Linked DNA regions of Homo sapiens: regions 2, 3 and 4 are each linked to region 1. Evidence: fine-mapped QTL for protein levels in blood plasma. Region 1 holds a variant in brackets. A gene starts in each other region. All regions are shown on their forward strands.

Region 1 (8,096 bases):
TCCTCTTTCCCCCAGCCCCTGGCAATCACTAATCTGCTTCTATCTTTATGGATCTGTCTATTCTGGATATTTCATGTGACTAGCTTTTTTAAGTCCTTCAGAATCTTGCCCCACATCTTATTTACCCAAATTTATTTTCTGTATTTCACAAACTAGAATATCTATTGCAAAAAAAAAATAGCCTACTCACCATTTCTCCATACACATCATGCTCATTTCTACCTTTGAGTCATTGGTAGGCTGATCCCTGCTGCTGGAATTCCCTCCTTTTTTCTCTCTGTCTATACAAATTATTTAAAGTTCTTTCTTCCACTCAGCGAAACCTTTCCTAACCACTCCAGTAATGCCATCCTGTTTTCCCAGACTCCTGGTGATTACAGTCAGTGCCACACAGATTATCACTTAGTGGTTCCACGTGAGTATTAATTTTATCTACTCTATTTGAATATAAGCATTAAGTAGTACTCTTTCTCATACATCCTGCCTATTCTAACCCTGTGTAAGGTGCACAGAAGTTGCTTAGTAAAATGCTTATTTAATGATTAATAAAAATTATAATCGATAATATTTAATGAGGACTTATTTGACAAGTACTACGCTAAAAGCTTTACGACATTATTGTATTTAATCCTCATAAAAATTATCTAAGGGATTCTATTCTTTTATAAATGAGAAAAATAGAAGGAGAAAGTATGTAATTTAACCAAGTTTATGCATGTTGATAATTCTTCATAGACCAGGGATTTGACTTAAAGCCTATCTGACTCTAAAGCCCTTGTTTTTGTTGTCATGTTTTGTTTTGTTTTTGAGATGGAGTCTCGCTCTGTCACCCAGGCTGGTGTGCAGTGGCGCAATCTCAGCTCACTGCAACCTCCACCTCCCAGGTTCAAGCGATTCTCCTGCCTCAGCCTCCCCAGTAGCTGGGACTACAGGCACCCGCCACCACGCCCAGCTAATTTTTAGTAGAGACAGGGTTTCACCATGTTGGCCAGGATGGTCTCGATCTCTTGACCTCGTGATCCGCCAGCTTTGGCCTCCCAAAGTGCTGGGATTACAGGTGTGAGCCACTGCGCCTGGCCTGTTGTCATGTTTTTTAGAGACAGCATCTTGCTCTGTCATACAGGCTGGGTGCAGTGGTGCCATTATAGCTCACTGCAGCCTCAAATTCCTGGCAAAGCCCATGTTTTTTAACCTTTATATTATCTGTATATGTATTTGAATAATATGACAGTATGAATAAATATGTTAAGGGCAACTACCACTTGTGATAATGTAAACAAAGTACCTGGAAGTGCCCAATAAATGTTAGTTTTTGTTCTTCAATGCATGAAACAGGCAAAGCTCAGACAAGTACTGGAGAGGCAACAGCAAATTAAAGAATTAAGTGGCCAGAAATAATTTTTTGAATCACACTGTTAACAGTGGGAAAATCTCTATAGTGGAAAAGCTGCAAAGTTTTAAAAGATTCTCTCTGAAATAGTTTTTATATATTATTTCAGAGAGGTTATATATTAAGGAGCAGAATTCTAAAATCCTGTCTTCACCTTGCTCTTTACAAAATTTCTAGTCTGGGAAAGCCAGAAATAAATCAATGAATACTGGAAGCTATTATGGGAACCAAGTAACTTCCTGAAGTGAATTACTCTAAACTTAACGAACCATTCTTCCAATCTTAGGGCTAAATGTCATCTAAAGCCAAGAGAAATTTTTACCTGATTTAGGACTTCGGAGTTTTACACTCTAAAAGAAAAAAAGAAAGGAAAAGTGAAAGAAGAATATGTATACAAATTATACAAACTCAAAGCAAAAAATGGCATTTTTGAACTTATATGTAATATAGCTGTAGAGATAATTATGAAATGTAGACCCTATTTTTCCTAATTTGTAAGTGTGCTGAATTATGAAATGGCATCTTTCACTCTTACACTGATTTTTATATCCCATGGCAATTAGTCCTAAATTGATCCCCTTCTGACTTATTTCTGTCCCACCTGAAACATTTCCCTGAAAATTTAATTAGAGGTAAGTTGCGGAAATTGAAGTTACTTCATAACATTGGAAGAGTGACTGTTCTTTCCTCTGGGAGTTGTTAAAGTAAATATATGTGCCTATTATTAATGACAATAATAATTACTAGTACATTAGAATTATAATTTAAAAGGCAGAGAATATTTGCCTATCAGCATTGCAATTGTAGGTACTTTAAAATGTTTAATTATTTTTCTGATCTCTCAAATTTTAAGAGAATTGGTTCACAGACTATACAGAAATGCATAACATTTTTAGATACACTTCTATTTTTCCTCCAGAAGCAGGACACACCTACTTTCAATAATTATTTTCTATTTAATCCACAAACCCCTCCCACCCCCATCTCTGACTTTACCATCAACCACACTATTCCAAAAGGTTTATCTTAAGTAATATGCACACCTGTCATTCTCTATAACATATTATCACAGCAAACATGATATAGCCTACCAAATGACTACAGTGAACAAGCTTCCTACTTAAGTATGAAACATTTATTTTTGCCTTAACTATCCTTCAAGAATCAGCTCAAATGTTTCCTCTTTCACTAAATCTTCCTTGATCACTTCCAACCTGGAGGCATCTCCTACACTTGAAATTCTTTATCTTTCATATGACATTGATCACATTTGCTTTGTTATAATAAATATAGGCAAAAATAAAGATTTGTACACATCCTATATCTCTACTACTAGACAAGAAGCTTCTTACAGGCAAGAATTGTGTCTTATACATCCTTTTTATCCCAACATCCTCTAGCACATTGTTCTATATTTAGTATGTGCTTAGGATTTATTGAATGATGGGTGTTAAAAATACAAGGAGTAGAACTGTAGTCTATTGAATCTAAATGAGTAGAGTCATTAAAAAATTATTGACCTTGCTTGGTCTAAGTATCACAGAGTCATCAAATTTCTTTGGTTCAGATGTTCCACCCCATTCCAGTGATGTTCCAATTTTTACCTTCACAGCTGAGGATAAGGATTTGGGAACATTTGGTGAGAATTCTCCTGGAAGAAAGTGAATATAGTTCGGTTCTTAAGAATAGTATTCTTTTAGACATCAAATGTTGCTCAGCAAATAATACATAAAACATTGAAAGGACCTGAGAAGTAATCTAGTTAATTCACACTTCATTTTATTTTTTGAGACAGGGTCTTGCTCTGTCACCCAGACTGGAGTGCAGTGGCACAATCATGGCTTACTGCAGCCCCCAACTCCTGGGCTCAAGTGATCCTCTCACCTCCACCATCCAAATAGTTGGGACTACACATGCATGCTGCTATTGCTCTGCTAAATTAAAAAAAAAAAATTAGAGATGAGGTCTCACTATGTTGCGCAGGCTAGTCTTGAACTCCTGGCCTCAATGAACTCCTCAAACTCAAGGCTCACACATCAGCTTCCCAAAGTGCTGGAATTAAAGGCATGAGCCACCATGCCCATCCCACACTTTATTTTATACTTACTGAACTGTACTCACCAGCTTCCTCAACCACAATAAATGATTCAGGTGTCC[A/G]TACAGGAAGTGGAGGGGGGATTTCATCATCTATCCTTGGAGCAGTTGCTATCCAAAATGTCAAAAATATTGTAACAATTGTTAATTAGAACAATCCAAAGGAAATTCTTATATTCTAATATTAAATATAAATTTACCATAATTTATATTTAAATTCCGTTGAAGCAACATTATCAGTAAAGTTGACACTTGTTCATTCAAGGAAAAAGCAAAATAAATTCTCTTAAGGTACAAACCCAGGAGGTTTTTGCTTATTCTTTAACATTTATTGTTTTAAAAGCTCAAAAGTAGGGCTGGGCGCGGTGGCTCACGCCTGTAATCCCAGCACTTTCGGAGGCCGAGGCGGGCAGATCACAAGGTCAGGAGATCGAAACCATCCTGGCTAACGTGGTGAAACCGTGTCTCTACTAAAAACACAAAACATTAGCCGGGCGTGGTGGCGGGCCCCTGTAGTCCCAGCTACTCGGGAGGCTGAGGTGGGAGAATGGCGTGAACCCGGAAGGCAGAGCTTGCAGTGAGCCGAGATTGCACCACTGCATTCCAGCCTGGGTGGCAGCAGGACACTCCGTCTCAAAAAATAATAATAATAATAAATAAATAAAAGCTCAAAAACATTTTGATTGAGTCACGGTGTATCAGTTAACATAAAATATTATATTAATTTTGGAAGCTTTGAATTAACTTTTACATAACTCCTTTTGTTTTACATAGACTATATAATAAAACATTATAAAGTGCTTTGACGTGTAAAAGGTTCAGTTATACATTAGGTAAAATCATAAAGATTTCAGTATCTCTTCATTCTATACAAAATTCAAGAATATGGGTATTTTTCCATTTTACAAAACAACAGTATAGGATAGTCTTCTGTATTTCTATACAAACATTCAGTTTTTATTAAACATTTTAAATGGTATTACAAGAAACTGCCACCAGATGGCACATGACGATATTGTTACAATCCCTGAAAATAAGGGTATGTTTTTATTAATTAATTTTTTTTTGAGACGGAGTCTCGCTCTGTTTTTTAATGATGCAGATGCTCAGAGAAGTTTAAGGTATAAGAAAAGAAAATACATTTAAATGTTTAAAAATGTATAAAATAATCTAATCACAGAAGGAACATCTTAGATCCAGATAAGATATTTTTGCAACAAAGCTACAAATGATCTACACAACTATTTATTAAGAAACTCTACAATAAATAATGTTATAGAGCAAAAGTTTTCTCCACCTCCTATCTATGTAGAATGTGCTTTACAAATTATTTGATGATATACCTAAGGGAGTTAAACTTGTTCATTGCTTTCCCTCATCATCTTCCACATCAAATTATTGTCATCATCTCTAACAGGGTGCTCATTTCTACTTTCAAACTAATCAGTAAAACAGAACAATATGCATTATATGCAAAAATACAGAATTATAAAAGAGACAAAACATGAAAGTAAAGGTATACATATGATAAAATTTTTACACAAAATACTAAACATGTATTGTCATCTACGAGATTACTACAAAAGAGCAAGAAATCAGGTTCTCCCCTTCCAAATCCTGCAGGAAGATAATTCAATTTTTAGCAATATGTTCAACTCATTTTAGCCACATAATTGTGCAACAAAAAATCTGGGTGCTATTGATCAAATTTTTTTCTGCTCTTCCTTTGGAAGCTGCTTCTATATGTTAAGAGTAAATTCTGAAGCTAGGTGTGGTGGCTTGCACCTGTAATCCCAGCACTTTGGGAGGCCAAGGTGGGAGGATTGCTTGAGGCCAGATTTTCAAGACCAGGCTGGGCAACATAGCAAGACCCCATTTCTAAAAAAAAAAAAAATTAGCCAGGCATGGTGGCGTGTCCCTGTGGTCCCAGCTACTTGGGAGGCTGAGGTGGGAGGATTGGTTGAGCCCAGGACATCAAGGCTGCAATGAGCAATGTCCACACCACTGCACTCCAGCATGGGCAACATAGTGAGATTCTGTTTCAAAAAATATTTTTAAAAAACAGTATATTGTGAGCCTTTGATATACATTTCTAGAAATGAGGCGTGCCTTCTTTAGAAGCACTCCTGCTGGTACAGATCCTGTACCAGATCTTGATTGCCTCCATTGTTGCCTGTTTCATGGAATATTATGTTTGATGTTGCTATTTTCAACTTATTACAGCATTAAAACACTCCTGGAATGTATTTATTTGAGGAGTAGCAGGAAGAAGAAAGAGAAGGAAGCAGGCTAGGCGTGGTGGCTCATGCCTGTAATCTCAGCACTTTGGGAGGCCGAGGCAGGCAGATCACGAAGTCAAGAGATCAAGACCATCCTGGCCAACATGGTGAAACTCCATCTCTGCTAAAAATACAAAAATTAGCCGGGCGTGGTGGCGCGCGCCTGTAATCCCAGCTACTCAGGAGGCTGAGGCAGGAGAATTGCTTGAACTCTGGAGGCGGAAGTTGCATTGAGCCAAGATTGCACCACTGCACTCCAGCCTGGGTGACAGAGCGAGACTCCATCTCAAAAAAAAAAAAGAAAAAAAAGAGAAAAAAGAAAGAAAGAGAAGAAGCAGAGGAGAAGAGGGAAGAGGAGAAGAAACCAACTATTCTATAGAAACAAAATGAAATCTAAAATTCTATGCAAACTTTAAAAAATAACTTACCTAGTACAGCTGACTCCTGGTTCAATAGTGAGGAAATATTGGTTGGAGAATTCAGTGATAAAGAATCATGTGAATTGTAATAAGAGAAGAGGGATGTAGAGGATGTTGGCAACAGAGAAGAAGGAAAAACAGTTCCATCTTGCTTCTCAGGTAAATCAAGAGACATCTTAGAACTGGTACCACTTGGAGGCCATGATGAAAAATAAGGATTTTCCACTAAAGGTATGTAAGAATATACACCAAGAGCACTAGAGTCATGGTGCTTTACATTAGAGGCATTACGTATTTGGTGTTTAGAGTCATATGGCAGTGAATAATTCAGTTCTGCTGAAGAAACATGCATTACTTTTTGAGCCTGCATCTCTACAAAACAAGAATCATGTGGTTGAGATTCCAAATAAGAAAAGTTTTCCTTGCTGTCCACCTCCTTGGTTTCTCTCTGCTGTATCAATTCAAAAGGAGTTGATTTGGTCCGTGTTATTGGCACCTTTGAATTAAAATATCTTCCTGCTGCATTTACAGGTTTAGAATTAGAACATCCCTCAAACAAAAGAGAGCCCAAATCCAAACTTTGATGCTTCTGAAGAGGCTCCCCAACTATTGGAAATGCCTTTGTCTGCCATTTCATGGTTGTGTCAGCATTTTTGTCAAAACTGTAATTTAGCTCCAGAAAGTCAAAAGAAGTGCTTGATTTAGCAGGGTGCAAAACTAGCTCTTCTTTTGCACTTATTTCAGAAGTCCTAAAGTCAAAGGAAGAAGATTCTTTGATTTCCATTTTTGTCCTTTGTTGGTTCATCATTTTTGCTGCTTTTGTGGTACTAAAACAAAAAGAAAGCGTAATGATGACACCATACCCCAAACAGGCCGCTTCCTAGCATCACAATGATGTATAAGCATGAGATTCATCTCCCAGACACAATTAGTCAACATTTAGATATATAAAATTGTACTCACCTTTTTGGTAAATTAGGAGAATAAGAGTCTGCTTGGAGAGTGTGATTTTTCTCAGGAATACAATGCTTTGCTTGACTCTTTAAAAGAAATAAGTCAGAGGCTGGTTTTCAGTGAAGCAATGTCAATAAGATATTTTAATATTTAGAAGGCTGAAAAGTAATTTTTCAGGAAATAAAAAGATTTAAAATAATTCATGAAAGAGTTAGATTAGCTTCCAAAATATTGAACTCAGCAAGAACTCGTTCATATACTGAGATGGCCAGAATAAAGGATTAATAGTATTATAGAAACTAGAAAGGATTTGTGTATATCATCATCTTTTCAAATGTGGGAGTTTTAAAAATGTTCTTTGGTGGGTAACTTTAGTCTCAAAAACACTCTGCCTTTAGAAATTTCAGCATCTCAGCCCTTTACAGGTACTTATTAGGTCTCTGGACCTATTTCATCTTGTTCTACTCTTTTCCTCCTCACTATGCTCTAGGTATACTGGTTTTCTTGCCATTACTTTAGCATGCCAAACTTATTTCCAAGTCAAGGCTTTTACACTTACTATTCCCCCTGATTAATATATTTTTGCTCCAAATTTTGCATGGCTGGCTCCTTCTAAGTAATTAGATCTCTGCTTAACTGTCATCTGCATAAGGAAACCTTCCCTGACCACCCAACCTAAAATCACATTTCTTCCCCTGTCCAGCCATGCTCAATCTTCTTCTTTTTTAAGAGACAGGGCCTCGCTGTATTGCCCAGTCTGGCCTCAAACTTCTGGGCTCAAGCAGTCCTCCTACCTCAGCCTCCCAAGTAGCTGGGACACTACAGGTGTGTACCACAGTGCCTGGCCTCAATCTTTTTTTTTTTTTTTGAATTAAGTTAGGGTCTTATTCTGTTACCCAGGCTGGAGTGCAGTGGCACAAACATGGCTCACTGCGGTGTTGACCTCCTGGGTTCAAGTCC
Region 2 (5,000 bases), not on the chromosome of region 1:
AGTTAATTTCTAAAAGAAAGAAAATTTTGATCTTCCTTTTCACCAACCTGTTTCTCCCACTTTTTAATCAGTTCCTTCACATCTGCTGAATCTGGGTTTAGACATGTTTGAACTCCATTCTTCAGTGTAGCACTGCCAAAGAAATAGCAATGAGATAGTTTTTTCTCATTAATAATTTAAATGCTTCTTCTCAGAAATAATGAAAATCAGTATGAATTGTGCTGAATTTTCTAATGAAACTACTTAAAATTATTTCCTAGGACAAGATGAGTCACTGGTTGAATTTTTTTTTTTTTCTTTTTTTGAGACAGAATTTCGCTCTGTTGCCAGGCTGGAGTACAGTGGTGCGATCTCAGCTTGCTGCAACTTCCAACTCCTGGATTCAAGCGATTCTCCTGCCTCAGCCTCCCGAATAGCTGGGACTACAGGCATGCGCCACCACGCCCAGCTAATTTTTGTATTTTTAGTAGAGACAGGGTTTTACCACATTGGCCAGGATGGTCTCAATCTCTTGACCTCATGATCTGCCCACCTCAGCCTCCCAAAGTGCTGGGATTACAGGTGTGAGCCACTGCACCCGGCCCTGGTTAAATTTTAAAAATTACTTACAGTAGACTGTCTGGAAATAATTTAAATGTTCCTTTAATTTTTCTGTATAGTCTGAGAATAAGAGTAGTCAAGGATGACTTATAAAGACAAAATATGCACACATCCTTCAACCTAGCAATCCTAATCTCTAGAAAGGAAAGAATTACAGACACAATACTGCCACAGTAAGTTTTATTTCAGCAGTAAAAATTTGGAAATAATCTATATTTCCAACAATAATCCTGGTCATATAAATTATGGTTTATCCATATGATGAAATACAGTTTGGCCATTAAAAATGACATTAAGTAAAAATGACATTATTAGAGATTTACTGACACGAGAAAATGTTCATGATATAGTGTTAATGAAAAAGCAGATTACAAAACAGTGTATAGTATATGATTTAATTTTTGTGCTTATATACGTGTATGTAAAAACATATCTATGTTATGTGCACACGAAGCAAGTAAGGAAGATTTAGAAAACTGTATACTAAGGGGTTAACAGTATTTGTCACTCAAGGGTAGAATTATGCGTGATTTTTATTTTCTTCTATTGTGTTACCTGCATTAAACATTTTGTACAATAAACATGTGTCATTCTTGGGGCCTAATCTACCAGAAATTCCTTGCATTTTTAAGGAGAAGAAAAGAAAGGAGCTGCCCAAATTTATGGAGGGGGTAACCATCTGATTTTTAAGTGTTTGTATGGGCAAGCACTCCAAGGGTAAAACTCATGCTAAATTTAATGTTCTTGCCAATATGGTGCATGCATGTTAGCTGGGTTGTTACTTACATGATTTCAATTTTCTCGCAGGAAGGGCTTGGGGCAAATTGTTTAAGGTCTTTCAAGGATTGTAGGTGGATAGTCCCTTGGTTGGTGCTGATGCAGGAACAGCGACCCTTTCTCACTACTGGGGTTCCTGAGGGAAAGAAAAAGATAGAACACATCAGTATAGGCCAATGTTTCAGTTTAGGTGATCTATCAAAATGATACACTTGACTGAGTCATGATTATTGCTATCATTTACCGAGTGCCTAAAAATAATCACCACAAACCTTTGAAGGAGGTATCATCTCTATTTTATACATAAGGAAACTAAGGTTCAGAAAGATTAAGAACAAAGTCATACAGCTTTTAGGGAGCAGGGGCAGGGTTTTAGCCCAGATCTCTCTGAGTCCAAAGGCGTTGCTCTTAACTACCACACCGTAAGTCCGTGGGAGAAAAAGAGACTTTCACAATATTTAATAAATGCCTATCACAAGACAAACAGATAACTAATTCATGTATGCTATGCTGATCACAGTTTCTTAAGCAACTCCTAAACCATCTATTATTTATTATCTGACCTTAAGGAATGGAACTGGTGTTGGTGTTGAATAGAAAGCACTCCTTTGTAACCAATCACCACTTTCATCCTCATCCTCTCTCCTCCCCACTGCCTTGCTTTTCAATAGTGTTTTAAATTTTTGAAAACCCCTTAAAATACATTATCTTAATTCTTAAATTCATATATTTACTTGGTACTTATTGTACCATATGCCATACATTGTGTAGCAGTCAGAAAAGGTATAACTACAAAGTTCTATTTTACAGATGATGAGGAAACTGAGGTCTAGAAAGATTAAGTAATTTGTCCAAGGTAACAAAGATAGTTAGTAAATAGATTAGGGACAAATTCTCTGATTATTGGTTGGATCCTTAATTGGTTAGCCACAGATATACTTAGCAAAAAACAGTATCAGGGAGAAGAAAATAATTTAGGAGATAGAGTTCTCATTATTACCCAGTTCAATGAACATTTATTGAACACTTACTAGGAATTCATACACCTAGACTACAAAGACTTGTGTTTGACTTGGCAGATCGAAGTTATGAACTTTGGATAACTGGTCATGTCACTGAGAAGCTTTTATGACTGACCAAATATTACTCTTCAATGCAGGCAGAACATTCACCTTTATCTGGCTAATCAAGATTCTTTTACAGTGAATCACTTCTCTTACTTTACAACCTAACTCAGAACCCCTTACCTTGCACTCCAATCAGAACCAGCAAGATGATGCCCAAGAGGAAAAGAACACCACTTTTCTTCATAGTGATAGAATGGAGTTCCAAGTCACTCCTGTATTGGATTTTGAGCCTGAGAAATTCTTTAGAGAACACATTTTGGGGATCATATTTATTTAGGATATTCATTTCTCTCCTAAACTCTGATTGGCTAGTATCTTTAGCTGAGCTAACTAAATTGACCACAAACTTGATTGTGCTGGGGGAAACCCTAGTCTCAGATCCAAGGGAATTTCTGCATGTTTTTATTTCCATTTCACATAAATGGGTGGTTTATAGTAAGGGATGTGAAACTAGCAACACTGATAGCCTTTGGCACATTCACAGTTGCTCACCTGTGTGAAGAATAGGTTATATAATGAATATACTAATGTTATACAACAAAGGTTGGAGATGTGGTTTCCAGATGGGAAATATTAAAGTCCAGATAAATAATATACTTTTCAAATTCCCTTACTATTTATGGCATATTCTTCTGTATAATAGATGGCTACATTGATATTTTCTTATATTGCCCACTTAACAACTTAAAGCACCTTAATTTCCTCTGGGACCAGGTCATTTTCTACTAGTGGTAAGCTCATTCTGTATCATTCCTGCTACAGTATTATTTTTTAAACTAATAAATTGGTTAGAATAAGGGGTCAGTTGCATGTAAGAGACCCAAATTAACAGTGGCTAAGAAATGCAATAAAAATGAAGATAAATAGCTGGGACCTAATTAAAGAGCTTTTGCACAGCAAAAGGAACAGTCAGCAGAGTAAACAGACAACCCACAGAGTGGGAGAAAATCTTCACAATCTATATACCTGACAAAGGACTAATATCCAGAATCTAGAATGAATTCAAACAAATCATTAAGTAAAAAACAAACAATCCCATTAAAAAGTGGGCTAAGGACATCAATATACAATTCTCAAAAGAAGATACACGAATAGCCAACAAACATATGAAAAAATGCTCATCACTAATGATCAGGGAAATGCAAATCAAAACCACGGTGTGATACCACCTTACACCTGCAAGAATGGCCATAATCAAAAAATCAAAAAACAGCAGATGTTGGTGTGGACTTGGTGATCAGGGAACACTTCTACACTGCTGGTGGGAATGTAAACTAGCACAGCCGCTATGGAAAACAGTGTGGAGATTCCTTAAAGAACTAAAAAGCAGAATTACCATTTTATCCAGCAATCCCACTACTGGGTATCTACCCAGAGGAAAAGAAGTCATTATTTGAAAAATGTACTTGCACATGCATGTTTATAGCAGCACAATTCACAATTGCAAAATCATGGAACCAACCCAAATGCCCATCAATCAATGAGTGAATAAAGAAACTGTGGTTTATATATACACAATCGAATACTACTCAGTCACAAAAAGGAATGAATTAACGGCATTAGCAGTGACCTGGATGAGATTGGAGACTATTATTCTAAGTGAAGTAACTCAGGAATGGAAAACCAATCATCATCTGTTCTCACTGGTATGTGGGAGCTAAGCTATGAGGACACAAAGGCATAAGAATGATACAATGGAGTTTGGGGACTTGTGGAGAAGAGTGGGAGCGGGGTGAGGGATAAAAGACTACAAATAGGGTGCAGTGTATACTGCTTGGGTGATGGGTGAACCGAAATCTCACAAATCACCACTAAAGAACTTATTCGTGTAACCAAATACCACCTGTACCCCAATAACTTATGGAAAAATAAAAAAAAAAAAAACAACAACAGAAAACAGTGGCTAAGATAGAAGCTTATTTCTCCCTGAGAGATGTAGGTGGATTAGCACTTGGATAGTGGCTCTTTCCCATGAGGTCTTCCAGGCTTCTCCTTTCTTGTGTTGTCACCATCTCTAGATTGCTGCCCTCATGCACATGGCCAAAGGTGGCTTGCCACCATGTCCAATTTCCAGGTATAGGATGATGAGAAGGCAGAAAAAGGGCATGTCCCTCCTTTTTAGACATCCTAGAAGTTGCACCCATCATTTTCTATCACCTCCCATGGAGGCAGGCCTTAATCACATGGCTACACCTAGTTGTAGGGGAAGTTAAGAAACGTCATCTTTATTTTGGTTGACTAGCTAAAGATTGGAGATTTCCTTATTGTAAAACAATGTTTCTCAACGTTTTTTTTCATTATGGACTCAGCACTGCATGCGTGTGTGCGCGCATGTGCACCCACACACACACACACACCCCCCCACATTTCACCTTGCTCTGAGAAAAAATAAAATGAACTGAAAACTAAATTTAATTTCTTCCTGAAGAGAGAAATCAAATGCTAAGAAATAAGATTTTGTTGGGTAGGGTTGAACCTTGGTAGGCCACTAGTCAT
Region 3 (8,096 bases), not on the chromosome of region 1:
TGCAAATGCTGGCGGTTTAGCATGAGAACCAAAGATTCAGGAGCCAAGTCTTTGTTTGGAAGGAGTCTCAAAAATCAAGCTCCTCTCTCCCATCTGACAAATGGGGAAACTGGATCTCCGGGTGCAGAGTGGAAAAGGAACTTGCCCAGAGTCACACAATGAGTGGGGCAGAGACAGGATCATGGGACTCTGGCCCAGGCAGTGAATTCAGGATTTGCTCTGTACCTCCTGGCGGCAGTGTCATGGAGGTAGCGTCCAGGGGCCCCTATCCTGGTAGCATCTTCTTCAAGGTTCCCACTCTCACCTGCCCTGCTCCGTCTGTGTGTTCCTCCGATAGTCCAGAAAGATCACTTTTGTTGCTTCTGTGGCAGGCTGACTTCCTCTAAATGTCACTGGCACTGAGAAGGATTTCAGGCAATGTGCTCCCCTCCCATGTGTGTTTGTCCTCTGAGACACCAGCCTGCTGGGATGCGGGGCACGGGGTCCACAGCTGGGAGACCTAGAACGCCATGGCTGGCTGGCTTGGTGGATGGATGAAAGAATGGCTGGGTGGGAAGTGCGTGAGTGGACAGTTGGCTGGATGGAGGTCTGATGAATGCAGAAACAGCTGAATGAATGGATGCATGGATGCATGAATGGATGGGTTATTGCAGCTTTTCTTGAAAACTATCCCTATCCCTCCCACCCACCTGGTATTCCAGGTGATTCTGAGACCTGGGATACCCAAGGTTTTGAGCACCTGCATCTGGGAGCAGAGGAGAGGAAGAGGATGTCATGCTCTCAGTGAGGAGGGGCTTTCACAACTCCCTCACCATTTCTCCCTTTTCAAGGCCTGCCCAGGCCTGGTTTTGTTGCTGGCTGACGTATACCCGATATAATGACACCTCTCTTCCCAAGCAAGGGTGCTCAATCTGGCCTCCTTGCTGTCATCTGACCCCAGTGGCACAGCCTTGTCACTCCCAGCTGGAGAGGCCCTTAGAGAACACTGTCTGGAGGCTAGCCTGCTTCCCCAGGAGACTTCTCAAGTACGAGGCACTCACTCTGTACAGAGAAGCCCTGTGGGATGCTCCAAGAGTCACACGGCTCTCATCTCCCAGAGCTGAGATTCCTTTCTGGTCTCATCTGGGGAGATGTCTCTGGTCTCAGTGTTGCCTTTGAGCCCTGGAGCCCATGTAGACTGTAGGGGTGGTGGTAGGGCTCCTCTATGTGGAATCTCCTGTGCTTCCCTGGCTACTCCTTCTTCCACCCCGTGGGCCTCTCTCCTGTCTCTGACCTCTGACTCCCAGGTCTGTCTGTCGGTGTCCCTGAGAGGCATGGCCCCAGGATTGCAAAGATGGGGCTGGACCTTGCTCAGTTTGGCTGAGAGAGGAAGGCTGGCCTGGAGGTCAGATTCTGTATGGACAGAATGAACAGATGGACCCTCAGCCCTGGCTGCTGAGCCTTTCCTCACATATTTATTCATTCTCTAAACAAATATTTATTGAGGGACTGCCTTGTGCCAAGCAGCATGCTGGACACCACAAAAACAGTGGAACCCAAAATAGATGTGATCCCAGTCCAAGAACATGGACAAATTTGGACAAACCAGCAACTATAAGTCAGGGTGATGAATGCTGTGAGGGGCCACTGCAGGAGGCTACCTAACCCAGCCTGGGGTCAGGGAAGGCTTCCTGGAGGAAGAGGCGTCTGGACCCAGATGGGAAGCCAGGTGGGCAGAGGAGAGAGAAGAGTGTGCCAGACCAAGGGAAGGGCATGGGTGGATGGGTATTTTCCCCCAGGCAGTAGAGCTGGGCCCTTTGCCCCACTCCACCTCCCCCAGCCGTGAGAGCTGGTTCCCCACAACTCCCTTCCCCCCAGTGACACTGGATTCCTTAGACACCTGGATGCTTGAACACCTGCCTTGGAGAGCAAAGAGTGGGAGGCATGAGACGCTGGCTCATTCAGGGAACTGACCCAAGCTTAGTGTCGCTGAACTATGGAAAGCAATGAGGCTGATCCTGAGAGCATCAGGTTGTTAAGTGGAGGTGAGCAAGGAGACCCCCTAGGCCACAGAAGAGAAAATAGATCCTGCCATTCCACCTCCCCCTTCCTATTCCTGTCCACCTGGCTAGACAGCAAACGGACAGCAGACAGATCTATGGGTGCCAGGTGCCTTTTTTTTTTTTTTTAAGGCTAGTTAAGCAGTAGGAGTGGAGAAAGAACAAAGAAATCTGTAACAGGTTGTGATCAATTAGTTGTAAACACCAGGCGGCTTTATTGGTAGCATTGCAATCTGGGGGTGGAGCAGCTTTACTCTGACCACACTCACCCTCTCGCTCACACTCACACTCACACACACCCCAGGCCCTGTCCTGGCTGGTCAGGTCTGGTGCAGAGGAGCTGGAAGCCTGGTCCTTCCTTCTGGTCCTCGGTTCCCCAGGTTAGGTAATAATTCACAATGCTTGACTCGGACTCCGGGCTCCCTCTGCACGGTCATAGGTTAACTGCTGCGGCGCTTCATCTAGAGGAGGAAGGAGAGGAAGGATCATGGGCTGGAATCTTAGACAGGAGCTCAGAGGGAGGAGACAGGGCCAGGGAGGGCCAGGCTTGCCTTGGCTGAGGTCCTCTGCAGTCTCTGGATGATGCGTTCTACCCAGGGCTGGTCTGGGGGTGCACAGAGCTGGCGGCCCCTCAGTGTGGTGAACCTGGGGTGAGAGGCCGGAGAGAATGGAGCCCCAGAATCCAGCATGCCTGGGGACCATGTCTGGGAACCTGTTTCAGGGATTTCCTTGAAGGGGTTGGGCTTGGCATGGAGAAGGGGAATAAGAAGGTGGGAGTCTCAACAGGGGCTAAAACGGGAGATGAGGCTAGACACCCTCCCCACAACTCACACTACAGCAGGCACCCTGCAGCCATCCTTGATGAGAAGGTAGTGGAAGTTCCTCACGATGTACCCAGGGATGGGTTTCTGGGTCACAGACAGGCAGCAGTCTTCAGCATCATTGGTGCCACTCAGAGTTGGGGCTGGGATGGGGAAAGAAGGTGACAGGACACAGGGACCCTTGAGGGTGGCATGGCCATGGCCCTAGCTCGGATTGAGGACACCTGTGTGTGTGTGTGTGTGTGTGTGTGTGTGTGTGTGTGTGTGTGTCTGGTGGGGTCGGGGAGGAGTTAGACCTGGTATTCAGCCATTATGCACCAATATGGCTCTGGCTCTACTGGTTGCTAAATATATTGTCATACTTCTAAACTGTTTTGTAAATAACCACTGCCCTGAGCCCCACAAATGACTTCCTGCTGCCCTGATCACCCCAACCTCTCTCCCAGGACAATCCAGCAAGTAAAGAGTTAATGCAGGTCACAGTGTGGGAGGGGCGTGGGGTAGGGTAGGCTGGTGTTAGGAGCCTTATTAATTGCTAAAATTTTTGAATATCAGCCTTGGCTTAGTGTCTGCCATTCTCCCTACCTTAAGCAAATCTCCTTCTGCCTGGGAAACGGAGGCAGCAGGAAATAGAGCTTGCAGAGACAGTCACAGCCATAGGCCCCAGGATGTGCTAAAAGACACACCCGCATTGGGATTCAGGGGCACAGGGACACCCACACTTACAGGCACACATGCAGGGACCTGCCAGGCTCACCGAAATATACAGACCTAAGCATTTGCCTGAACTCACCATGTCCCTTACGTCCAGTGCCAAGCAATCTGAGATCTAGACATTACCCACTGCCAGCCCCCCACTGCCTCTGACCCTGACTCTCCCTTCAGCCTTACCTGGGGAAGTCCAGAGAACCAGCAGGCTGAGGGCCAGTAGCAGGGCCATGGAGGGTGAACAGAGGCAGGCCAACGGTGAATGTGTGAGCGCCAGCTGTCTGGGTGTGTGCAGGATCTGTGTGAGGCTGCAGGGCGACTGGGATGCAGGGGTGAAATGCAAGGTGTGAGTGATGTGAGGCTGGGAATGTGAGCCCTGCAGCTGACTCCTATTTATGGCCAGAGCTTCACTTTCTCTGCCTGAAATTCCCCTTCATGTCCCATTCTGTGATTCCCCTGTTGCCCCCCTCTTTCTGGCAGAATCGCACCCTGCCCCCCTTCTTCCCCCTGCGGTTGCCCTTTCCTTCTGCTTTCCTTGGCTCCTGCTCTGAGAACTTAAGTCTGCAGTCTGGCCCAGTAAAGGGGGCTGTGCACTGTTTCTCCAGAGAGAGGGATTGCCCTGTCATCCCATTGATGGCATTTGCATCATCAACCATGAAGCTGGGGTTCAGAAGTGATGGTCAAAGGTGGGGCCCACAGTGAGGAACTGTGCTCCCTTCCTTAGGTTTATCCCTTGTCCTCACTGGTGCTTCTTTCTTGGGCTGGTGGTGAAGAAGGCTCCCTGGCACCCTCAGGACAACCATGAGATCCTGGGGTGGCCTCCAAGGTCATCACTGTGCCTGCCCACTATGTGGGAACCAGTCCTTCCCTTGGGGCAAGCAGAGCTGAAAGGCCAGGTACCTTGGGAGGAGGCCCAGGACCCCCATCCCACATCTCAGGCCTCTGGGGCTCAGCAAACCCTCCCCTTCCTCTATTTACTGTTTTCCTATGTCCAACACCTGGGTCAAAGGAACAGCTGGAGGGAGACTGGCTTGGAATAGCCCCCTTCATTTTCCCCCTTTTCTCAGTCCTGGGAACCAAGAGGGGATTTCTAAGGAGAGGGGCTGGCCAGCTCATATTCAGACAAATCTTAAAATTTCAAGGAATCGGCCGATGGGGGAGGGGACAAGTGACTTCCCATCCTTATGAGAAAGGTCAGAAGAGAAGGCCTTGAAAGAGAAACTAAATGTGAAACGCCCAGTCACCCGTCGTCACCCAAACCCTAGACCCTCTTTTGGATGGAGAGAGGGAGGGGGAACATTTCCCTCTTAAATTTCTGACTTAGCTTCTTTCCATTCATTAATCATAATAATAGTAATGGTATTTTTGATTGTTTACTATGTGCTAGGCTCTATGTCAAGGACTTTACCACTATTACCTTGCTTAACTTTCCCAAAACAATACCATTGATGTAGTTTTTCTTATTTTCACATTATTATTCTTATTTTACACATAAGGAACATGAGGCTCAGAGCACAAAGCCACACAGCTAGTAAGTACTGGAGCATGATTTGGACCCAGGTGTGCTCTAGGGTTTGCAGTCTTTACCTCCACTCCACACCGCCTGTCTGCCACTTGGTCATGGCACAGCACGGGTAGTCACGGTGCAGAGGAGGGAGACTCTGCAGACAGAGCGCCTAGCTTGGGATTCAGATTCCACCACTTACTAACTGCGACAAGGTGAAAATTCTCCAGTTTCTGTGTCTTAGTGTCCTTATTTGTAAAATGGGAATGGTAGAAGATCTACTTCTTAGGATTAAGTGAGGAACCCTGAGTAAAGCCCTTAGCTTAGAGGCTGACGCACAATAAGCTCTGTTAGCCATTGTTCTTCTTTTGTCCTTTTTTTTTTTTTTTTTTTGAGACAGAGTCTCACTCTGTCACCCAGGCTGGAGTACAATGGCACGATCTTGGCTCAGAGCAACCTCCACCTCCTGGGCTCAAGGGATTCTCCTGCCTCAGCCTCCTGAGTAGCTGGGATTACAGGCACCCACCATCATGCCCGGCTAAATTTGGTATTTTTAGTAGAGGTGAGGTTTCACCTTGTTGGCTAGGCTGGTTTCGAACTCCTGGTTTCGAACTCCTGACTTCAAATGATCTGCTTGCCTCCGCTTCCCAAAGTGTTGGGATTACAGGCGTGAGCCACCGTGCCTGGCCTTCTATCCTTTTATTCAGGTATCTGTTCATTAATTCATCCATCCACCCCTCTTTCCATTGATCTATCCATTCTTCTGTCCATGATGGTTCTGGTTATTCTGTTTGCCCCAGCCTATCCATTCTCCACTCTTCACGGCCCTGCTCTGCTCCCTGGAAGGCTGACCTCTGCAGATAGCATTACTTAGGGTCACCTGCTTTCTGGCTTCTGTTTGGGGCTGGCCCATGGGAAGCAGCAACTGATCAGTGGTGGAAGGAGAGAGGGGTATTAATTCCCCAAATCCTTCATCTTGCTGCAGTTCTGGCAGTGAATAATTTCCCCTGTGGCAGTTGTTCTCAAAGAGTAGCCTTTGGGCAGCAGCAGCAGCATCACTTGGGAGCTTGTTAGAAACACGAATTCTTAGATTTTACTTCCCACTTACCACATCTGAGACTCTGAGGATGGGGTCCAGCAAACTGCATTTTCACATACCCTCCAAGTGACTCTGATATGTGCTAAAGTTTGAGATCCAAACGAGCCTCAGGGATACCATCAAATATACCTCATCACAGGAGTCTCAGGAGGAGAATAGAGAGAACAGGGCATTAAAAAAATTGAAGAAATAATGACAAAACATCTGAAATCTGATGAAAAGTATGTATATACATATCCAAGAAGTTCATTACGCCTGGCCTGCTATGTTGTTATGTTTATCAGAGATCTTTGTTTCTTTGTGTGGCTGTAAGTTATTACTTTTTGTCCTTTTGTTTCATTCTGAAGGTCTCCCTTTAGCATTTCTTTGTTTGTTTTTTGTTTTTTCTTTCTCCCTTTAGCTTTTCTTATGGGCAGATGTACTATTAATGAACTTCCTAAGTTTTGTTTATCCAGAACAGGAGTTTGAGACAAGCCTGGCCAACATGGTGAAACCCCATCTCAACTCCTGACTACTCAGCTACTCAGGAGGCTGAGGCAGGAGAATCCCAAGGCTCACCTTGGCCTCCCAAAGTGGTCTACAGATTGAGGCCCACTGATCTACAGTGATCCTTTTGGGTTGCCTCCCTTCCACGGGTCTATCTCTATTCTTTTTTTTTTTTTTTTTTTTTTTTTTTTGATACAGAGTCTCAATATGTCACCCAGGCTCTAGTGCAGTGGCACAGTCTCAGCTAACTGCAGCCTCTGCCTCCTATGTTCAAGTAATTCTCTTGCCTCAGCCACCCGAGTAGCTGGGATTAGAGGCACGCACCACCACGCTTGGCTAATTTTTTTTTTTGAGATGGAGTTTCACCCTTGTCACCCAGGCTGGAGTGCAATGGCACAATCTCAGCTCACTGCAACCTCCGCCTCCTGGGTTCAAGCGATTCTGCTGCCTCAGCCTCCTGAGTAGCTGGGATTACAGGGACCCGCCACCACACCCAGCTAAGTTTTTTGTATTTTTAGTAGAGATGGGGTTTCATCATGTTGGCCAGGCTGGTCTTGAACTCCTGACCTCAGGTGATCCACCTGCTTTGGCCTCCCAAAGTGCAGGGATTACAGGCGTGAGCCACCATGCCCGGCCTAATTTTTGTACTTTTAATACAGATGAGATTTCACCATGTTGGCCAGTCTGGTCTCAAATTCCTGACCTCAGGTGATCCACCCGCCTCGGCCTCCCAAAGTGCTGGGATGACAGGCTTTGGAAACACTGTTCCCTCCTCTTGCCCCTTCAAGCCTTTGTATGATAATGGTTTCTCACCATTGCTAGACCCCAACTGCCTATCATCCCATGTTAGTTCCTTAATCCTGACCTAATCTCTTAAATTGTCCCTTTATTAAAATCTTTCCAGTTAAATTTTTTTTGAGTGTATGTGATATTGTGAAATATATATCTGGTCTTCATCTTCCTTTTCTGACATATAGCTCCTAAAATCCTTGGAATCTTGGGAGAGATTGTGTCTTTTGTATGCTAATGAGATAACTGGTGGCTGGGGGCCTCTAGACAGCCTCTGGATGGGAGCTAGTCAGCAGAAGAACCAGCCACATGGTTAGAGAGTTGGAACATTCTCTAACATTCTGTAGTGGTGGGGAGTCCCACCCACTCCCCACCTCTGGGTAGGGGAAGAGGGGTTGAAACTTGAGTTGATAAACCAATGGCTGATGATGTAATCAATTATACCTAGGTACTGATACTTCCATTAAAAACCCGAAAGGACTAAGTTGGGGTGGGGGCTTCTGGATAGCTGAAAACATGGAGGTTCTGGAGGAGGGTGCCCAGAGAGGGCATGAAAGCTCCACACCTTTTTTTCCCCATACCTCACTCTATGCATCCCTTTCATCTGGCTGTTTATCTGTTCTTTGTAATATCCTTTATAATAAATGGGT
Region 4 (6,456 bases), not on the chromosome of region 1:
CTGGGTGACAGAGCAAGACCCTGTCACTAAAAGAAACAAACAAAAAAGTGTCAGGGGCTGGGCTGGGTAGTTTTCACAGATGACCCGATTTAATCCTCAGGACGCAGCCTTGCCAGGAGGCGTCCTCACCCATGACCCAAAGCACACGGAGAAGTCAGTAAGGGGCCAAGTCCTGTCGAAGGCCCAGAGCTCAGCAGTGGCAGCGCTGACTGGAGCTCACAGTGGTCCCACGCCAAAGCAGAGGCTCTTATTTATGCTCCTGCCCTCGGACGGGGCCAATAAGCAGCCGGGTTGGGGATATCTCATAAAACACAAGGGAAGCACACACCTGAGGTGGGAGTGGTGGCCCCGGGAATGACCGAATGGCGAACGCAGTGAATAGATCAGGAGGGAAAAGAGGCATCCTGGAATGAAGACCACTGCGGCCGGGGTGGCCACATCTGGGTCAGGACCCACAGGACCCCAGTCATGCCCACTGCGCCTTGCTGAGTGCCCTGTGCTGTTACCAGTGGGGAAACCGAGGCATGCCACCTGTGAGAGTCTTGTCCGGCACAAGCGCGGGCACCTGAGGCACGAGTGTCAGGCTGCGGACACCTTGCTCTTATCTTTCCCGCCTGGGTCGGGGAGGGTGGCGTCCCGAGGGCGTGCCTGAAGAGCCGGGACACGGGGGGAGAGGCTCGGCTCCCCTCCTGCCTCGCTCAGCTCCCCCTCCCCTGTGACGAGCGCCCCTCTGCCCTCTGGTTCCCCCGCAGTCGTCTCCCTGGGATGCCTTTTGGCCCTTTGCTCTTTGCCTTTTGCCCAGAATCTCCAGTTCTGAGTCCTGAGTGACCCACGGGCCAACCTTAAGAGGTGGCGCTGAGGCAGGAAGGCACGGCCCTGACAAGGATGCTGCCTCAGGTGCCGGGGAGCAGGCCCCGGGAGAGGGGCCGAGGTGGGGAACCCCCAGTCGCCTGCCACAGTGAAGGGGCACCAGGACCCCCGGGGCAGGAGCCTCGAGGGGGTGTCAGGGCGGCCCCAGGGGTGCCCCTCATCTTGTCCTCCCAGTGGTGTCACACCCCGGTACCCAGCAGGGCCCAGAGGGACTGTCTTAGGCTTGGCCTGGGTGAAACCACCCTCCCCAGGCCTTGGCATCCCCAGGTGCAGGCTGGCTGGGCACAGAGGGCCAGCCGGGCACAGAGGGTCCAGGAGCGGGCTGTGGTCACAGTGTACACAGAGGGCCCAGGGTCACGGGCAGCCCAGGAAGAGGCTCCCTCTCTCCTCGATCCGGGAGAGTGAGGCCAAGGCCTCCCCCACGGATGGTCTGAACAGGGCTCGGGGAGAGCCCTGGAATCTGGGCAGAGACCCAGGCGGGCACAATCCCCACCCAGGAGGGATCCTGGAGACAGAAGAACTGTCCTCACTCGAACAGGTACACTTTGGATATAATGAGAAAAATATCACCAGCTCATCTAAACTTTGACGTCGTAAAGCCAAGGTTAGTCCCACATGGGGCTCATCCCATCCTTAGGAAAACTCGAGTGAGGACCAAGGATGCCTGGGCAAGGCAGAGCCGCCACGCAGACTCCCCACGGCCAAGGTTTGGGGTTCTGGCCAGCCTGACCCGTCATTCTACAGAAACACGCAGCCCCAAGGACCGGCTGAGAGGGGACAGAGGTCCTGCCTGCCCAGGAGCAAAGAGGGGACTTGGGCCAGGGGAGGAGTTGGGGCCCAGAGAGGAACCCAGGAGTTCGAGCTGCCCAAAGCCACACAGCTCAGGGTAAGGGGCAGAGCTGGGGGCCAAGGCTGGGCCTGCCACAGCACCCCCCGACCTGCCAGGGACTGAGAGTGAAAGGTCCCTCCAGACCCCTCGCTCCGGGACCCCTGGGCTGCCAGGGCCAGGCCCGCCTCAGCACCCCCCGACCTGCCAGGGACTGAGGGTGGAAGGTCCCTCCAGACCCCTGGCTCTGGGACACCTGACCGCCGACCCCACCTACCTAAGAACCATCCTGGCCGCCAGCCCAGTTGTAGCACCGCCCAGACGACTGGCCAGGGCGCCTGTGGGATCTGCATGCCTGGAGCAGCCCCACCAGAGTGCCGCCTTCTCCACTGCTCAGGCGGAGGTGAGCGGAAGGGAAACTGTCCCAGGTCAGGTTGAAGGGAGGGTGCCCGCCCCTTGCTCCCGCCCCCTCTTCCTCCACATCCACGTGGGCGAGAGTGACAGAGGCAGTGCTGGGGGAGGAGGGGTGAGGAGGGGGTAGGACTGGGGAGAGGGTGGGGGAGGGAGAGAGAGACAGAGACAGGGAGACAGAGGAGATGGGGAGGAGGTGGGCCCGTGGCCCCCACGCCCTACCCCGTGGGGGTCTCCCCAGCTCAGGGCCCCTTCCTCCTCTGTGTCTCTGCTCACTGCTGTGGCCTCTTTCCATATCCCGCCCGAGCTGCCCCTCCTGAGGCTGCCGGGTGGGGGCAGGCCCTTCTCCTCCCCCATCCCCCCCATCTCCCTGGGGGCCGGGCCTCCCTGCCTGGGGAAGGTGGGTGGCCCCCTCTGGGCTCAGGTTCCTGGGCTGCAGTGAGGGGTGGGCTCAACCCCACTCCCATTCTGTCGGAGCCTCTGGGAGCCTCCCGGCTGCCCACAGCCTCTGCCCCTGCTGGGGGCAGGTGCCTGGCCTCTGCCTTCCCGGCCCATCCCCCTTCGCTGGGGCACAGGTGACCCTACTGAATGACAACTGTCCATGGCTAATCGGCTCCCCCTCAAAGCTTCCACCTTGTGGATGGCCTCACACCATGGCCACAGTTCCAGATCTTTCCACCGTGTGATGCCTGCAACAGCCTGACGGGGGGGCTGGGGCGGTGGCAGGGGCTGGCTGTGAGGCTGACCTCCCCTTCCAGCCTTGACCTTCTTCCCCGGGGCCCTGCCCTCCAGCCCACTCGTGCCAGGGTGGGGTGGTTCAGGGGGTCCAGTGCCTGGGCCTGGCTGGCGGCCCGGCGTTTGTGAAATGGCTTGCTTATCTCCTTGTATTCTGTGCTGAGCATTTTATTACAGCGAATGGAAAACAGGAGAAATGAAACTGCTGATATTAGTGATGAGATGCGTCAGGCTCATCAGCTTAAAATAACCGAAGCGAGGCTAGAAACCGCCTGACAGCTGGCGCGGCTGCCTGGCTCCGAGAGACACTCGGCCCGGCTCTGAAGGGAAAACATTAAAGCACCGAAACAGTGGAAAAAGAGCATCAAAGATGATGTCTGCGAGGCGCGGCCACGGCGAGGAAGCTCTCGTTTATGAACAAAGGGCCACTCCCGGGTCTCAGAGATGTGAGGCTGTGTGGGTGGCTTGGTGGGGAGGTGGGGGGGGCCCAGCTGGCCAGGTGGGCTTGGCGGGGGGCCCCCAGGGAGCCTGGCAGCACCCACTGTGCTGCCAGACAGCTAAGGTGGCCCGCAGCAACTGTCTCCTGGCACACCCACCCTTGTGCCTCAGGGGCTGGGGCTCTGGGGCTGGAGAACTGTTGGTTGGTAGGTGCCTCCATAGCCCTGTGCCTCGCCCAGGCAGTGGATAAGTGGCTAAGCTGCCCCTGCTGGCTGTACTTGTCCTGAAGGCAGATTCTGGACAGAACCTCCCTCTGCCCCCAGCCCTGTAGAGCCTTGTTCCAACCTCTGTTGAATGCTGTCTCTGTTCCAGGGCAGCAGTGGGCCTTCCTCAAGGCTCTGAGCTTTGTGGGACGAAGCTGTCCTCTGAGGACTGGGAATGCCACTGTGTGGGCTGGAGGGGAGGCTGGGCCCAGGAGGTGGGCTCTGAGATGGGAGATGCTATCAGACCCCTGGAAGGTCTCCTCACCACCAAGGCCCTGCCCCCAAAATTCCACCTGCCAGGGCTTGGACACATGTCCTGGAGTAGGGGGCGGGCACAGGGAGAAACCCAGCTTCCATCCTACCCCTTCCTTCCTTCTCCTTCTCCCACCCCTCTCCTCTCTCCCTGCAGTTCTTCCCTGTCACCCACTCTCCTTCCCTCCTCCTCTCAGTCCCACTGAAGGCCCCTGGGCCATGGGAGAGGAGACCTGGTGGGGTGGGCCCAGCGTGGAGCCAGGGGACTGCGGCCACTGAGGCCAGGGCTGCCTGATGGTCTCTCCACATTGCTACTCGCTGGAGCACCTGCAAAGAGACACATGGACCCAGGGAGGGTCTGCAGGGCTGCGAGGGGTCTGAGCCTGGAGAGCACAGGGCCTGCAGGGATGCAGGCATTGGGCATTGGGCCTGGACTAGTAGGCTGAACCTACAGGGTCCTGGGACCCCACCCCGAAGCAGATAGGCGGTCCCAGGGCTCAGGTGTGGGGTGGGGACTCATGGAGCCTGCACCCCAATATCACACTCCAGACCACTTATTGACACCCTCCCCCAAACACATACGGTGTCCCCAACACACGATTTCCAACACACCACACCCCAACACACACAGTCCCCAACACACACACAGTCCCCAACACACACACAATCTCCAACACACACAATCCCCCCACACACAATCCTCAACACACACACAAAATTCCCAACACACACAATCCCCAAAACATACACAGTCCCCAACACACACACAAAATTCCCAACACATACAATCTCCAACACACACAATCCCCCTGCACACAATCCTCAACACACACACACAATTCCCAACACACACAATCCACAACACACACACAATCCCAACACACACACAACTTTCAACATACGTAGAATCCCCAACACACACAATCCTCAACACACACACAAAATTCCCAACACATACAATCCTCAGAACACACACAATCCTCAACACACACACAATTCCCAATACACACACAATCTCAAACACACACAATTCCCTCACACACAATTCTCAACACACACACAAAATTCCCAACATGCACAATCCCCAACGTACACGCAATCCACAACACATACACAAAATTCCCAACGCACACACAAAATTTCCAACACACAATCCTCTGTACACATTGTCCCCAACTCACACACAACTCCCAACATGCACAGAATCCCCAACACACACACAAATCCCCAACACACACAATCCTCAACACACACACAATTCCCAATACACACACAATCCCCAACACACCCAATCCCCAGCACACACACAGAATCTCCCCCACACACAATCCTCAACACACACACAATCCCCAACACACCCAATCCCCAGCACACACACACAATCTCCCCCACACACAATCCCCAACACACACACAACCCCCAACACATACACAATCCCCAACACAATCCCCAACACGCAATCTACAACACCCACACACCACAATCCCCAACACACATACAAAATCTGCAATATACACACAATCCCCAACACACGATTTCCAACACACACAACTCCCAAACATACATGCTCCCCAGCACACACACTTTCCTCCCACACACATCCTAAGCCCGTGCCTTCCACCCAGTAGGCTTCCACTGTCTTCTGTCACGAGGAGGAAAGGCAGGCGGAGTCCGGGGAGCAGGGTAGATGGGGCTAAGGGGCCCTTGGCTGGCCGGCCCTGCGCACCCCTCCCCCATCTCCTTTTCTCAGCCTTCCTTCCCAGGGAACCTGGACACCCAGGCCCTTCCCCCACCGCCTGCTCCTTCCTCACAGAGGGTCATACCCCATCCAAATCACTGGCCCTGGGATGGCAGCAGCCAGATTCAATCCAGGGCATTCAGTTAAAAGATAATTTACAACAAGCAAAGTTGTATGTGGTTTTTGTCTGTTTATTTTCTTTTAGAGACAGGGTCTTGCTCTGCACCCAGGCTGGAGTGCAGTGGTGTGATCTTGGCTCACTGCAGCCTCGACCTCCTGGGCTCAAGCGATCCTCCGACCTCAGCCTCCTGAGTAGCTGGGACCACAGGCGTGCACCCCGTGGCCAGCTCATATCTAACATTTTTTTTTTTTGTAGAATTTGGGGTGGGGGCAGAGGAGGTCTCTTTATGTTACCCAGGCTGGTCTCAAACTCCGGGCCTCCAGCAATTCTCCCACCTTGGACTCCCAAAGAGTTGGGATTACAGGCGTGAGCCACCACACCTGGCTGATGGTTGTATGTTTTGGTTGAGTATTGTATCATTTACAATTGAGATAATTGTAGATTTACTTGCAGTTGTAAGAAATTACACAGATGTTTCCTCATACACTCTGCTCAGTCTCTCTGAATGATAACAGTTTGGAAAACCACAGGACAACGTCACAACCAGGTTAATGACTTTGATGTGACACCTCGATCCCATCCTGAGTCCCCGTTTCTGGCTAATGTGTGCCTATCAAAGGCTGCACAATGTGGGCACAAGCGAAGGCTCCTGCATCCCCTGACAGCGAAGCTGCAGAACGTCCCCATCACCACGGGGTCCTCCGGGTGCCCTTGGCAATACACCCACCTCCCTGCTGGTGGCCACGAGCCTGCCCTCCACCCCCATCACTGTTTCATTCCAGCGACAGCCGTGGGAAGGTGC

Alleles and levels. Positions count from the first base shown, and alleles are read on the strand shown. Strength reflects both the effect of a copy and how common the allele is.
With allele G in place of A in region 1, the plasma level of the protein whose gene starts at base 2,748 in region 2 is lower (weak association).
With allele G in place of A in region 1, the plasma level of the protein whose gene starts at base 3,937 in region 3 is lower (weak association).
In carriers of allele A in region 1, the plasma level of the protein whose gene starts at base 2,105 in region 4 tends to be higher than with G alone (weak association).

Evidence for each region. A credible set is the group of variants that fine-mapping cannot tell apart. PIP is the posterior inclusion probability: the model's chance that the variant is causal. Protein levels are from antibody-based Olink assays in UK Biobank. Linkage for the fine-mapping came from a reference panel and not from the study's own genotypes, which makes the PIPs less certain.
Region 2: CXCL9 starts here. The variant in region 1 is the best candidate, but not a certain one, in a credible set for the plasma level of the CXCL9 protein (UK Biobank, PIP 0.70).
Region 3: CCL19 starts here. The variant in region 1 is the best candidate, but not a certain one, in a credible set for the plasma level of the CCL19 protein (UK Biobank, PIP 0.64).
Region 4: it holds the start of PDCD1, and the variant in region 1 is the best candidate, but not a certain one, in a credible set for the plasma level of the PDCD1 protein (UK Biobank, PIP 0.52).

What each region holds. Positions count from the first base shown.
Region 1 is chr1:113,831,399-113,839,494 of GRCh38, forward strand. PTPN22 (protein tyrosine phosphatase non-receptor type 22) reads right to left here. Exons shown (of 21, transcript NM_015967.8): 12 at 7,146-7,222; 13 at 6,192-7,009; 14 at 3,512-3,595; 15 at 2,911-3,041; 16 at 1,713-1,740. All of the region lies in intron 3 of AP4B1-AS1 (AP4B1 antisense RNA 1), which reads left to right. Among named protein-coding and RNA genes, the nearest start is that of AP4B1-AS1, 23 kb to the left of the region's middle. The variant A/G (reference allele first, on the strand shown) is at 3,548.
Region 2 is chr4:76,004,762-76,009,761 of GRCh38, forward strand. It overlaps CXCL9 (C-X-C motif chemokine ligand 9), which reads right to left and starts at 2,748. Exons shown (of 4, transcript NM_002416.3): 1 at 2,625-2,748; 2 at 1,387-1,513; 3 at 48-132. The coding sequence starts at 2,688. It overlaps SDAD1-AS1 (SDAD1 antisense RNA 1), which reads left to right. Exons shown (of 3, transcript NR_125906.1): 3 at 312-1,181.
Region 3 is chr9:34,687,340-34,695,435 of GRCh38, forward strand. It overlaps CCL19 (C-C motif chemokine ligand 19), which reads right to left and starts at 3,937. Exons shown (of 4, transcript NM_006274.3): 1 at 3,752-3,937; 2 at 2,871-3,003; 3 at 2,591-2,684; 4 at 2,231-2,500. The coding sequence starts at 3,800. The coding sequence ends at 2,480. It also overlaps a transcript of PHF24 not described here.
Region 4 is chr2:241,856,790-241,863,245 of GRCh38, forward strand. It overlaps PDCD1 (programmed cell death 1), which reads right to left and starts at 2,105. Exons shown (of 5, transcript NM_005018.3): 1 at 1,974-2,105. The coding sequence starts at 2,049. LOC124908032 (a long non-coding RNA gene) reads left to right here and starts at 2,283. Exons shown (of 2, transcript XR_007088436.1): 1 at 2,283-3,288; 2 at 6,108-6,456. RefSeq lists an enhancer at 1,311-2,273.